2 separate regions of the Homo sapiens genome follow, and region 1 is linked to region 2. The links come from fine-mapping of genetic effects on gene expression. A gene starts in region 2. The other region holds a variant in brackets. All regions are shown on one strand. Distances are from middle to middle. Region 1 overlaps NCAN (neurocan). Region 2 holds the start of RFXANK (regulatory factor X associated ankyrin containing protein).

Region 1 (5,514 bases), 29 kb before region 2:
AGAGGTTGCGGTGAGCCGGGATTGAGCCACTGCACTCCAGCCTGGGAGACAGAACAAGACTCCATCTCAAAAAAACTAAAACATTAAAAAAAAGAAAAGCATTTATAAGCATTATCTTATTGAACTCTTACAACAAATCTGATTGTTCTAGAGGAGGAAACTTAGGGTCAGAAAGGTTGAGGGACAGGTCCAGGCCCACGCAGCAAATAAGAAACAGAACCAGAATTCAAATTCAGAGAGATCTGACTCCAAAGATAGCACTCTTCATGCCCAGGGTTAGGCCCTGGAGGTGGCAGGAGGTGTGGAGAAGGCTGACAGAGAGTTTCTGCCTTTTAGGAATTAAGTGCATGCGCTAATAGGGAAGCACAGGCAGCAATGGGAGACCAAATGTGGTTCTTTTTTATTTATTTATTTATTTTTTATTTTATTTATTTTATTTTATTTATTTTTTGAGACAGAATCTCACTCTGTCGCCAGGCTGCAGTGCAGTGGCGCGATCTCAGCTCACTGCAAGCTCCGCCTCCCGGGTTCACACCATTCTCCTGCCTCAGCCTCCCAAGTAGCTGGGACTACAGGCGCCTGCCATCACGCCCAGCTAATTTTTTTCTATTTTTAGTAGAGATGGGGTTTCACCATGTTAGCCAGGATGGTCTTGATCTCCTGACCTCGTGATCCGCCCACCTCAGCCTCCCAAAGTGCTGGGATTACAGGCATGAGCCACCGCGCCCGGCCCAAATGTGGTTCTTGCCTGGCCTGGAAATGTGGTCCTGGAAGGCTTCCTGGAGGAGGTGACATGTAAGCCAGGATGTGAAGCCCTGGTAACAGGCTCACTGTGATTCAAATTCTGATTTAGGGATGAAAGAAATGGCTGAACAAGACAATGAAATGAAACACTTTGCTCTGGCTTATCCAACTGAGAGCTCTGTGTCCTCAGCATTGGACCAGTACAGTGTAGGTGCTCAATAAATGTTTGGCTGAATGTCCGGGCATAGCAGCTCATGCCTGTAATCCCAGCACTTTGGAAGACCGAGGCAGGCAGATCACTTGAGGCTAGGAGTTGGAAACCAGCCTGGCCAATGTGGTGAAACCCTGTCTCTACTAAAAATACAAAAATTAGCCAGGTGTGGTTGTGTGCACCTGTAATCCCAGCTACTCCAGAGGCTGAAGCAGGAGAATCGCTTGAACCCACGAGGCAGAGGTGCAGTGAGCCAAGATCACACCACTGAACTCCAGCCTGGGTGACAGAGTGAGACTCTGTCTCAAACAACAACAAAAAGAGTTTGGCTGAATGAATGAAATTGAAGTTACCTAGATGTGGAATTCACTTGCCTCACCACCAATCAGTTTGTTGTTGTTGTTGTTGTTAGCTTTTATCAATTTTCAGAAATGAGGCCTCTGAAAGGGGATGACTGGTTGACTCCATAAACTATGTGGTAAGACACTGTGTCCCCAGTTCCCAGTTTGGGGGCATGCAGGTTAAGCCCCAAGACAGGAATCAGGGACTTGCCCAAGGTCAATTTAAGTTAAGGGAAACAGGTTTCCCAGCAGGAGTCCACGGGATGTTTGCTGTACAATAATCCATTCACTGAGTCATTTATTGAGCATCTACTGTGTGCCAAACCCTGTTCTTTATTTTTAGTTTTTGACTATTTATTTATTTATTTATTTGAGTCAGGGTCTCCCTCTGTCACCCAGGCTGAAGTGCAGTGGTGCGATCTCAGCTCACTGCAGCTTCCAACCTTCCAGACTTAAGCGATCCTCCCACCTCAGCCTCCTGACAAGCTGAGACTACAGGCGCACACTAGCATGCCCTGCTAATATTTTTTTAAAAATTTTGTAGAGACGAGGTCTCACCATCTTGCTCAGACTGGTCTTGAACTCCTGGGCTCAAGCAATCCTCCTGCCTTAGTCTTTCAAAATGCTGAGATTAGAGGTGTGAGCCGCCACATCTGGCTTATTTAGTTGTATTATTATTATTATTATTATTTTTAAGATGGAGTTTCCCTCTTGTTGCCCAGGCTGGAGTGCAATAGCACAATCTCGGCTCACCTCAACCTCCACCTCCTGGGTTCAAGCGATTCTCCTGCCTCAGCCTCCCGAGTAGCTGGGGTTACAGGAATGTGCCACCATGCCTGGCTAATTTTTGTATTTTTAGTAGAGAAGGGGTTTCACCATCTTGGCCAGGCTGGTCTCGAACTCCTGACCTCATGATCTGCTGGTCTCGAACTCCTGACCTCATGATCCACCCGTCTCGACCTCCCAAAATGCTGGGATTACAGGCGTGAGCCACTGCGCCCAGCCATATTATTATTATTTTTGAGACAGGGTCTTGCTGTGTTGCCCAGGCTGGAGTGCAGTGGCATGATCAAGGCTCGCTGCAGCCTCGATCTCTTGGGACTCAAGCAATCCTCCCACCTCAGCCTCCTGAGTAGCTAAGACTACAGGAACACACCATCATACCTGGCTAATGTTTTGGAATTTGGAATTTTGTATAGACAAGGTCTCACTA[T/C]GTTGCCCAGGCTGGTCTCAAACTCCTGAGCTTAAGTGATTCTCCTGCCTTGGTCTCCCAAAGTGCTGGGATTACAGACATGAGCCACTGGGCCCCCATCCCCGTTTTTTGTTTTTTGTTTGTTTGTTTGTTTTTGTTTTTCTAATAGAGACAGGGTCTTGCTATGTTTCCCAGGCTGGTCTTGAATTCCTGGCTGAAGTGACCCTTCCTCTTCAGCCTCCCAAAGTGCTGAAACTACAGGTGTGCACTACCACACGCAGCTCAACAAGAAGAATTTAATAAAGGAATTGGTTGCCAGGTGCGGTGGCTCATGCCTGGTAATCCTAGCACTTTGGGAGGCCGAGGTGGGCAGATCACGAGGTCAGGAGATCAAGACCATCCTGGCTAACACGGTGAAACCCCGTCTCTACTAAAAATACAAAAAATTAGCCAGGCGCTGTGGCGGGCGCCTGTAGTCCCAGCTACTCAGGAGGCTGAGGCAGGAGAATGGTGTGAACCCGGGAGGCAGAGCTGGCGATGAGTTGAGATCATGCCACTGCACTCCAGCCTGGGAGACAGAGCGAGACTCCCATCTCAAAAAAAAAAAAAAAAAAAAAAAAGAATTGCCTAAACAGGTATTTGAGAATTGTTCTTGCTTAATATTTAATATACATCTTAAATTAACTTACTTTTAAAAAATTGCCTCACTTAGAAAAAAACTTAAGTTTATTTTACAAGGAATTTTTTATTTCTATTTTAAATAGAAAGCCAGTATCCTTTGTCTTACATAAAATCAGATAACCATAAAATTGACTCCAAGTAAAATCCTGCCTAGACGGAGGATGCAGTGAGCTTAGATAGCACCACTGCACTCCAGCCTGGGCAACAAGAGTGAGACTCCATCTCAAAACAAACAAACAAAAATCCTGCCTAGATATTGTGGCCCCCAGAAGTCTGAGCTGGAGACTCCTCTCTCATAGCTAAAAAAGAGAGGTGTTAAAGACAAGATAGTACCCATACTGATACAGACGTTTTTTTTCTTTTGAGACAGAGTCTCGCGGTGTGGCCCAGGCTGGAGTGCAGTGGCTCAATCTCAGCTCACTGCAACCTCCACCTTCTGGGTTCAAGCAGTTCTCCTGCCTCAGCCTCCCAAGTAGCTGGGATCACAGGCATGCATCACCATGCCTGGCTAATTTTTTTTTTTTTTTTTTAAAGACGGGGTTTCACCATGTTGGCCACACTGGTCTCAAACTCCTGACCTCAACTGATCCACACGCCTCGGCCTCCCAAAGTGCTCAGATTATAGGCACCATAAAGACTTTAGGACTTTATCAGAAGAATTCAAAGGGAATCCCGGTTCAGAGAGTGATTTCTTTCCTTTTTTTTTTTTTTTTTTTTGTGACAGGGTCTCCCTCTGTCATCCAGGCTGGAGTGGAGTAGCCTCAACCTCCCAGTCTCAAGTGATCCTCCCACCTATGCCTCCCAAGTAGCTGGACTACAGGCATGTGCCACCATGCCTGGCTAATTTTTGTATTTTCTGTGGAGACGAGGTTTCACCATGTTACCCAGGCTGGTCTCGAACTCCTGTGCTCAAGCAATCCACCCGCCTTGGCCTGCCAAAGTGCTGGGATTACAGGCATGAGACACCAGGCCAGGTCTCAGGGAGTGATTTCTAAGGTGACATTCAGTGGGTGGGCTCCAGGCTCAGCCCTCCCTCTCCCCGGCCCCCGGCCCCTCCTTTGCCCCCAACTGACCTGTCACCTCCAAGGGCACCAGGTCCTGCTCATCCTCGATGCCCCTCACCACCTGGCAGCGGTACAGCCCAGAGTCACTGGCCCTCAGTGGCCCCAGAAGTAGCGTGGCGTTGGCTCGGCGCCGGGGGTAGGAAGGCAGTGACACTCGTCCCTGCCAGCTTTTGGCCACCCTCACGACATTGTCCTTGGCCACCAGGATGGGCAAGTCCTGTCGCTGGCCCGACGCAGTCCGCACCTTGGTCCACTTTATCCGAGGGGCATCTCGGGCTGCGCTTGGCCGTGGCTGCAGGGTAAAGAGACAGGGCAGGGCCACCAGCTCCGCCAGCGCAGCCTGCACTGACCCAGACCCCAGCTTCTGCATGTGGAGCCCCCTTTCGCTGGCATCGGTGATATCCTGTGTGCCTGGGTTGGAGAAGGTGGAGAGAGGGCCTGATTCAGAGGCAAGAACCAAGCAGGGACTGCTATTTCCCTCTTTTAAAAAATTTTTTAAAAGGGCTGAGCCAGAATTTGAACCTAGGGCCACTTGACCTCAGAATCCAAGCAGTGGCTGGACGCGATAGCTCATGCCTGTAACCCCAGCACTTTGAGAGACCAAGGCGGGCAAATCACCTGAGGTCAGGAATTTGAAACCAGCCTGACCAACATGGAGAAACCCTGTCTTTACTAAAAATACAAAATTAGCTGGGTGTGGTGGCACATGCCTGTAATCCCAGCTACTCAGGAGGCTGAGGCAGGAGAATCGCTTGAACCCGGGAGGCAGAGGTTGCGGTGAGCCAAGGTCGCACCATTGCACTCCAGCCTGGGCAACAAGAGCGAAACTCCATCTCAAAAAAAAAAACAAAAAACTATTTTTAGAGATTGAGTCTCACTCTATCGCCCAGGGTAGAATGCAGTGACATGATCATGATTCACTGCAGCCTCAAGCTCCTAGACTCAAGCAATCCTCCCACCTCAGCCTCCCGAAAGTGCTGGGATTATAGGTATGAGCCACTGTGCCCAGCCCCTTATTATTATTATTCTTTTATTTATTTATACTTTTGAGATGGAGTCTCGCTCCATCTCCCAGGCTGGAGTGCAGTGGCATGATCTCAGCTCACTGCAACCTCTGCCTCCTAAGTTCAAGCAATTCTCCTGCCTCAGCCTCCCCAGTAGCTGGGATTACAGGTGTGTGCCACCACGCCTGGCTAATTTTTGCATTTTTAGTAGAGATGGGTTTCACCATGTTGGCCAGGCTGGTCTCCAATTCCTGACCTCAACTGATCCACCTACCTT
Region 2 (5,000 bases):
GCACTCCAGCATGGGCAACAAGAGCAAAACTCCATCTCAAAAAACAACAAAACAAAACAAAACAAAAACGAAAGCAAGACACAGGTTCCATGTGAGGCCTGACATTCCATCATCATGGAATCCCAGAGGGCTAATCCCAGAGGAGGTATCCTACCCTGTGGAGAGGAAACACTGGCATCCGGTTCAGGATTCACAGGCTCAGGGGTGCAGGGAAAGAGACTGAGGACCACAGTGTCTGAGCCATCTGCAGCCTCCTCTCCGGGGTCTTCAGGGTCCCCAAGTTCTGAGGCAGGGGTCTGCTGGGTCTGGATGAGGTCTTCTGCAGGCTGGGTAAGCTCCATGGGGAAAGCTGGCGGAGGTGTCAGAAGGGGAGAGATGACAATAATTATCAACAGTTATAATAAAGTAGGCACCGACTGCATACCTAGCCTTGCACTGTGAGGGTGGGTAAACTGAGGTCCAGGTTAATTACCAGAGCCAGGGAAATGAAAACCAGAGTCCAACTGCTTTCGAGGTCTACCATTCCCCACCACCAAAGCACCTACAATGTGCAATGTTTAAGAGCCTGGGCTCTGGCAGGGCACAGTGGCTCACGGCTGTAATCCCAGCACTTTGGGAGGCCGAGGAGGGTGGATCATGAGGTCAGGAGTTCGAGACCAGGCTGGCCACCATGGTGAAACCCCATCTGTACTAAAAATACAAAAATTAGCCAAGCGCGGTGGCGGGCGCCTGTGATCCCAGCTACTCGGGAGGCTGAGGCAGAATTGCTTGAACTCGGGAGGTGGAGGTTGCGGTGAGCAGAGATCGCACCACTGCACTGTAGCTGGGGCGACAGAGCAAGACTCTGTCTCAAAAAAAAAAAAAAAAAAAAAAAAGAAAGGAAAAAAAAGCCGGGGCTCTGGGGTCAGCTGTCTGGGTTCGAATCCCTCAATTTATAGGCCGTGAGAACTTGGGCACGTGACTTAACCTTTGAGCCTCAGTTTCCTCCACGACAAAATGTGGAAATGAGACCTACAACGAATTATGTCTGTACATAGCTTATCGGGGGATCTGCTAAGCGTGGAGCTCAATAAATATTCGCTATGGTTGTTGGGAGGGGCTCCCCATAATGAGTGACGGCTCAACAAAGGTGCGATTGGTCCCAGTCCCACCCGAGCCTCCTAAATCGATCCAGGAGGTCCACTCACCTCCCCACGAGCCTCCTCTGTCCCCCCGCGCCGAAAGCCCAGTTCTCTCAAAACTTGGGGGCCCAAGTCACAAACTTTTCTCTTCCAATGGATATAGCAGGAGGCAAACTGGAGACCGGACCCTCAGCGATCTGGCTTCCTCTGCCGGGACAGAAAGCAACTTGATACTCGACCGCTACCCCCACCCCAGAGCTCCCCCACTGCGCTTGCGCACCCCCGCCCCCCAAAAGTGAGGAAGGGCCCGGGCAGTAAGTGCTGCCTCTGGCCCTTTAAGACTTAGGGGAGGGCGTGGGTTCCGCTGGGGTCCTGGGAGGGCAGTTGCGCCTGCGCCTTCTTTTCCCCTCCTCACCGACTCGGAGGGAATGGGCGGGGCCTAAAGGGCTCTGAGAATTTCACTACGCCTGCGCCCGCTCACCTTTACCCTGCCCACAGATTTTTCCAGAGGGAGCCAATTGGCTCCGGCTTCGGGTAGATGGGCGGGGCTATCTCAAGAAGAAGAAGTAGGGGAAGTACGCGGGGCGTCTGGAACTTAAAGGGGCAGCGTACCTTGGCCGTCCCGTTCCACAACAAGGTCCCTTCTGCGGTCTCAAAGGCTTATAAGCAAGGGCGGGGGCAGAGGGCTAAAGAAGGGAGTTTTTGCGGCCCGAGTGGGTAATGCGTGGAGGACTCCCCCAACTCGTCTCTCAAGGAAAAGGGGGTTCAGAAAGGGAGAGAGTTCTTCCCCCTCTCCTGCCTGGGTGTCGCTCCACCAGCCTCCTGGCCGTCGCGCCCCCTCCTCACTGCGCCACCCCCGGGTGTGCCTCCTTCCCTGCGTCTCACACAGCCCCTTTCTTGTCCGCAAAGACTGAGGAGCGGGGAGGGCGGGCCCTCTGACACCGGAACAGGAGCCGTGCGGCGTCCGGTTTCAGCAGGGAAGGCTTAGGCGGGCGTCCCAACCTCCGGGCTTCCGGTGCCGTTTCCCGGTTCGCTCGGCCGCGGTCGCTATGGAGGAGCCGGAGATGCAGCTCAAGGGGAAGAAAGGTGGTGCGGGCCTGCGGGCGGGACAGAGGGGGCCGGTAACTTGTGGAGGGGCGGCCTGACAAAGGCCGGGCGCGGAGGGACCGTGCGAGGAGCAGTGATTGAACTGCCGTCCAATCCCAGCTCTGCCGCTGACTAGTTTTGAAACCTGTAGAAAGGCTCCGTGTCTGCTTTAATTACCGGTCCCCCCAGGATTGTTTCAAGAATTCAGTAGCTGAGGCTGGGAGTGGTGGCTTTGTAATCCCAGCACTTTGGGAGGCCTAGGCGGGAGGATCGCTTGAGCCCGAGACCAGCCTAGGTGACATAGTGAGATCTCGTCTCTAAAAAAATACAAAAATTAGCCGGGCGTGGTGGCGCACGCCTGTGGTCCCAGCTACTTGGGCGGCTAAGGTGGGAGGATTGCTTGAGCCCGGGAGGTCAAGGCTGCACTGCAGTGGGCTACGGTCGTGCCACTGCACCCCCAGCCTGGGTGACAAGTGAGACCCTGTCTAAAAAAAAAAAACTCAACAACCTGATATTTGTAATGCATTGGAAGAATCCCCGGGGCGTAGTAATCGCTGTGCGTCTTGTTTCCTTTTTTTTTTTTTTTTTTGAGACAAGGTATCACACTGTCGCCCAGGCTGGGGTGCGGTGGCGCGATCATGGCTCACTGTAGCCTCGATCTCTCTGGCGCGGGCGATCCTCTTGCCTCAGCTTCTCCAGTAGCTGGGACTACAAGTGCACACCACCACATCAGGCTAATTCTTTAATTTTTTTTTTTTTTGACGGAGTCTCGCTCTGTCACCCAGGCTGGAGTGCCGTGGGGGGATCTCAGCTCACTGCAACCTCAGCCCCCTGAGTAGCTAGGATTACAGGCACACACCCCCATGCCCAGCTAATTTTTTTGTATTTTTAGTAGAGACGGGGTTTCACCTTGTTGCTCAGGCTAGTCTCGAACTCCTGACCTCGAGTGATCCACCCACCTTGGCCTCCCAAAGTGCTGGGATTACAGGTGTGAACCACTGCACCCAGCTAATCCCCTATACTTTAAATCACCCTAGATTACTCACATCTAGAATACATAATACAGGCCTACACATCACTTCATTCACATGGATTCAAAGAAGTGCTTCGTGTAGGGCAGATTGAAGTTTTGCTTTTTGAAACTTTGTGGAATTTTTTTTTTCCTATTTTCCATCCACGGTTGGTTGAATCCACAGATTCGGGAACCATGGATAACGGAGGGCATGAGTATGAGGCATGAGCCACCGTGCCTTGTCTGTTATGCTCACCTTTCTTCTTCTTTTTTTTTATTTGAGACGGAGTTTTGCTCTTGTTGCCAAGGCTGGAGTGCAATGGCGTGATCATGGCTCACGGCAACCTCCGCCTCCCGGGTTCAAGTGTTTCTCCTGCCTCAGCCTCCCGAATAGCTGGGATTACAGGCATGCACCACCATGCCTGGCTAATTTTGTATTTTCAGTAGAAACGGGGTTTCTCCACGTTGGTCAGGCTGGTGTCGAACTCCCAACCTCAGGTGATCCTCCCGCTTCGGCCTCCCAAAGTTCTGGAATTACAGGCGTGGGCCACCGCCCCTGGCCGTTATGCTCACATTCAAAGCGAGGAGGCCTATCTGGTAAGAGGTCACACAGTTTGGAGGTGGCAGGCTGGGCTCTGCCACTCAAGGCACAGTGGTGAGATGGAGAGACTTGTGTTAGCCTCCTTTGACTCCCAGACACGCCTGGGTTCTCTCTCCTGAGCAGTCACCCTGGTGATGGCATTGGATTCATCTCTGTAGCAAACTTTGAGGCTGGTGCTGTTATTCTTTTTTTGTGGATGAGGAAGCTGAGGCTCAGAGAAGCTCTGCTCTCCCAAGTCCAAGCTTTTAACTTTTCCTGTGAACATGTAACCTAATCAGTTGAAATTGGTATTAAGAGAAAGGAACAAAATGCCTGCCAAGGTCCTCCGTGAGGTGGAGGGGTCATCTTTTAAGCTTGGTAGTCAGGGAGGGTCTTGCCCAGGAGGTGACATTTGAGCAGACCTGAGGGATGAAGGAGAGCCAGTGACGGAATGGTGTCTCCAGGTGGGAATACCAAGTGCAAAGGCCTTGAGGTGACCAAGTGTTTAGAGCTCTGCTGTAATGAATAAAGGAGCAACTGGTCACATACGGGCATTTAATTTTTTTTTTTTTGGGACAGAGTCTCACTCTTTTGCCCAGACTGGAGTGCAGTGGTATGATCATGGCTCACTGCAGCCTCCACTTGTCAGACCCAAGCAGTCCTCCCACCTCAGCCTCCTGAGTAGCTGGGACTACAGGTATAGATCACCATGACCAGCTTATTTTTGCAATTTTTTATAGAGGTGGGGTTTCGCCATGTCTCCCAGGCTGGTCTTGAACTCCTAGGCTGAATCCATCCTCCTGCCAAAGTGCTGGGATTACAGGCGTGAGCCACCGCACCCGGCGTTGGTCTCAAATTCTTATCCTCAAGTGATCCTCCTACCTTGTCCTCTCGGGCAGTGAGAAAGTTCTGGGCAGTGCTGGGAGGTCCAAGGAAGAGCCAGGGGTGGAGGGCAAGGAAGGCAGGGAGGTCAAGAGCAGCCAGAACATGCAGGGCAAGAAAGGCGGATTTTATTCTCTGGCAGGTGGGAGCTATGGAAGAGTTTAAAGCAAGGGTGGGAATAGATGATTTGTTCATTTGGAGTTTGCCTCACGTGCTGCATGGAGGTTGAACTGTTGGCAGCAGGGGAAGCAGAGAGGCCAGGGAGAAGGTGGATCTGGCATCCAGGCAGGAGATGGCCGTGCCTCGCTGTGCCTGGACC

What was found. PIP is the estimated chance that this variant, and not a neighbour inherited with it, causes the effect. A credible set is the group of variants that fine-mapping cannot tell apart.
Region 1: its variant is the best candidate, but not a certain one, in a credible set for the expression of RFXANK in whole blood (TOPMed, PIP 0.80).

What each region holds. Positions count from the first base shown.
Region 1 is chr19:19,218,045-19,223,558 of GRCh38, reverse strand. NCAN (neurocan) reads right to left here. Exons shown (of 15, transcript NM_004386.3): 3 at 4,243-4,644. Among named protein-coding and RNA genes, the nearest start is that of NCAN, 8.8 kb to the right of the region's middle. The variant T/C (reference allele first, on the strand shown) is at 2,510.
Region 2 is chr19:19,189,288-19,194,287 of GRCh38, reverse strand. It overlaps RFXANK (regulatory factor X associated ankyrin containing protein), which reads right to left and starts at 2,030. Exons shown (of 10, transcript NM_003721.4): 1 at 1,734-2,030; 2 at 1,188-1,328; 3 at 155-349. The coding sequence starts at 341. BORCS8-MEF2B (BORCS8-MEF2B readthrough) reads left to right here and starts at 2,136. Exons shown (of 12, transcript NR_027308.2): 1 at 2,136-2,207. BORCS8 (BLOC-1 related complex subunit 8) reads left to right here and starts at 2,136. Exons shown (of 6, transcript NM_001145784.2): 1 at 2,136-2,207. The coding sequence starts at 2,171. RefSeq lists an enhancer at 1,164-1,253.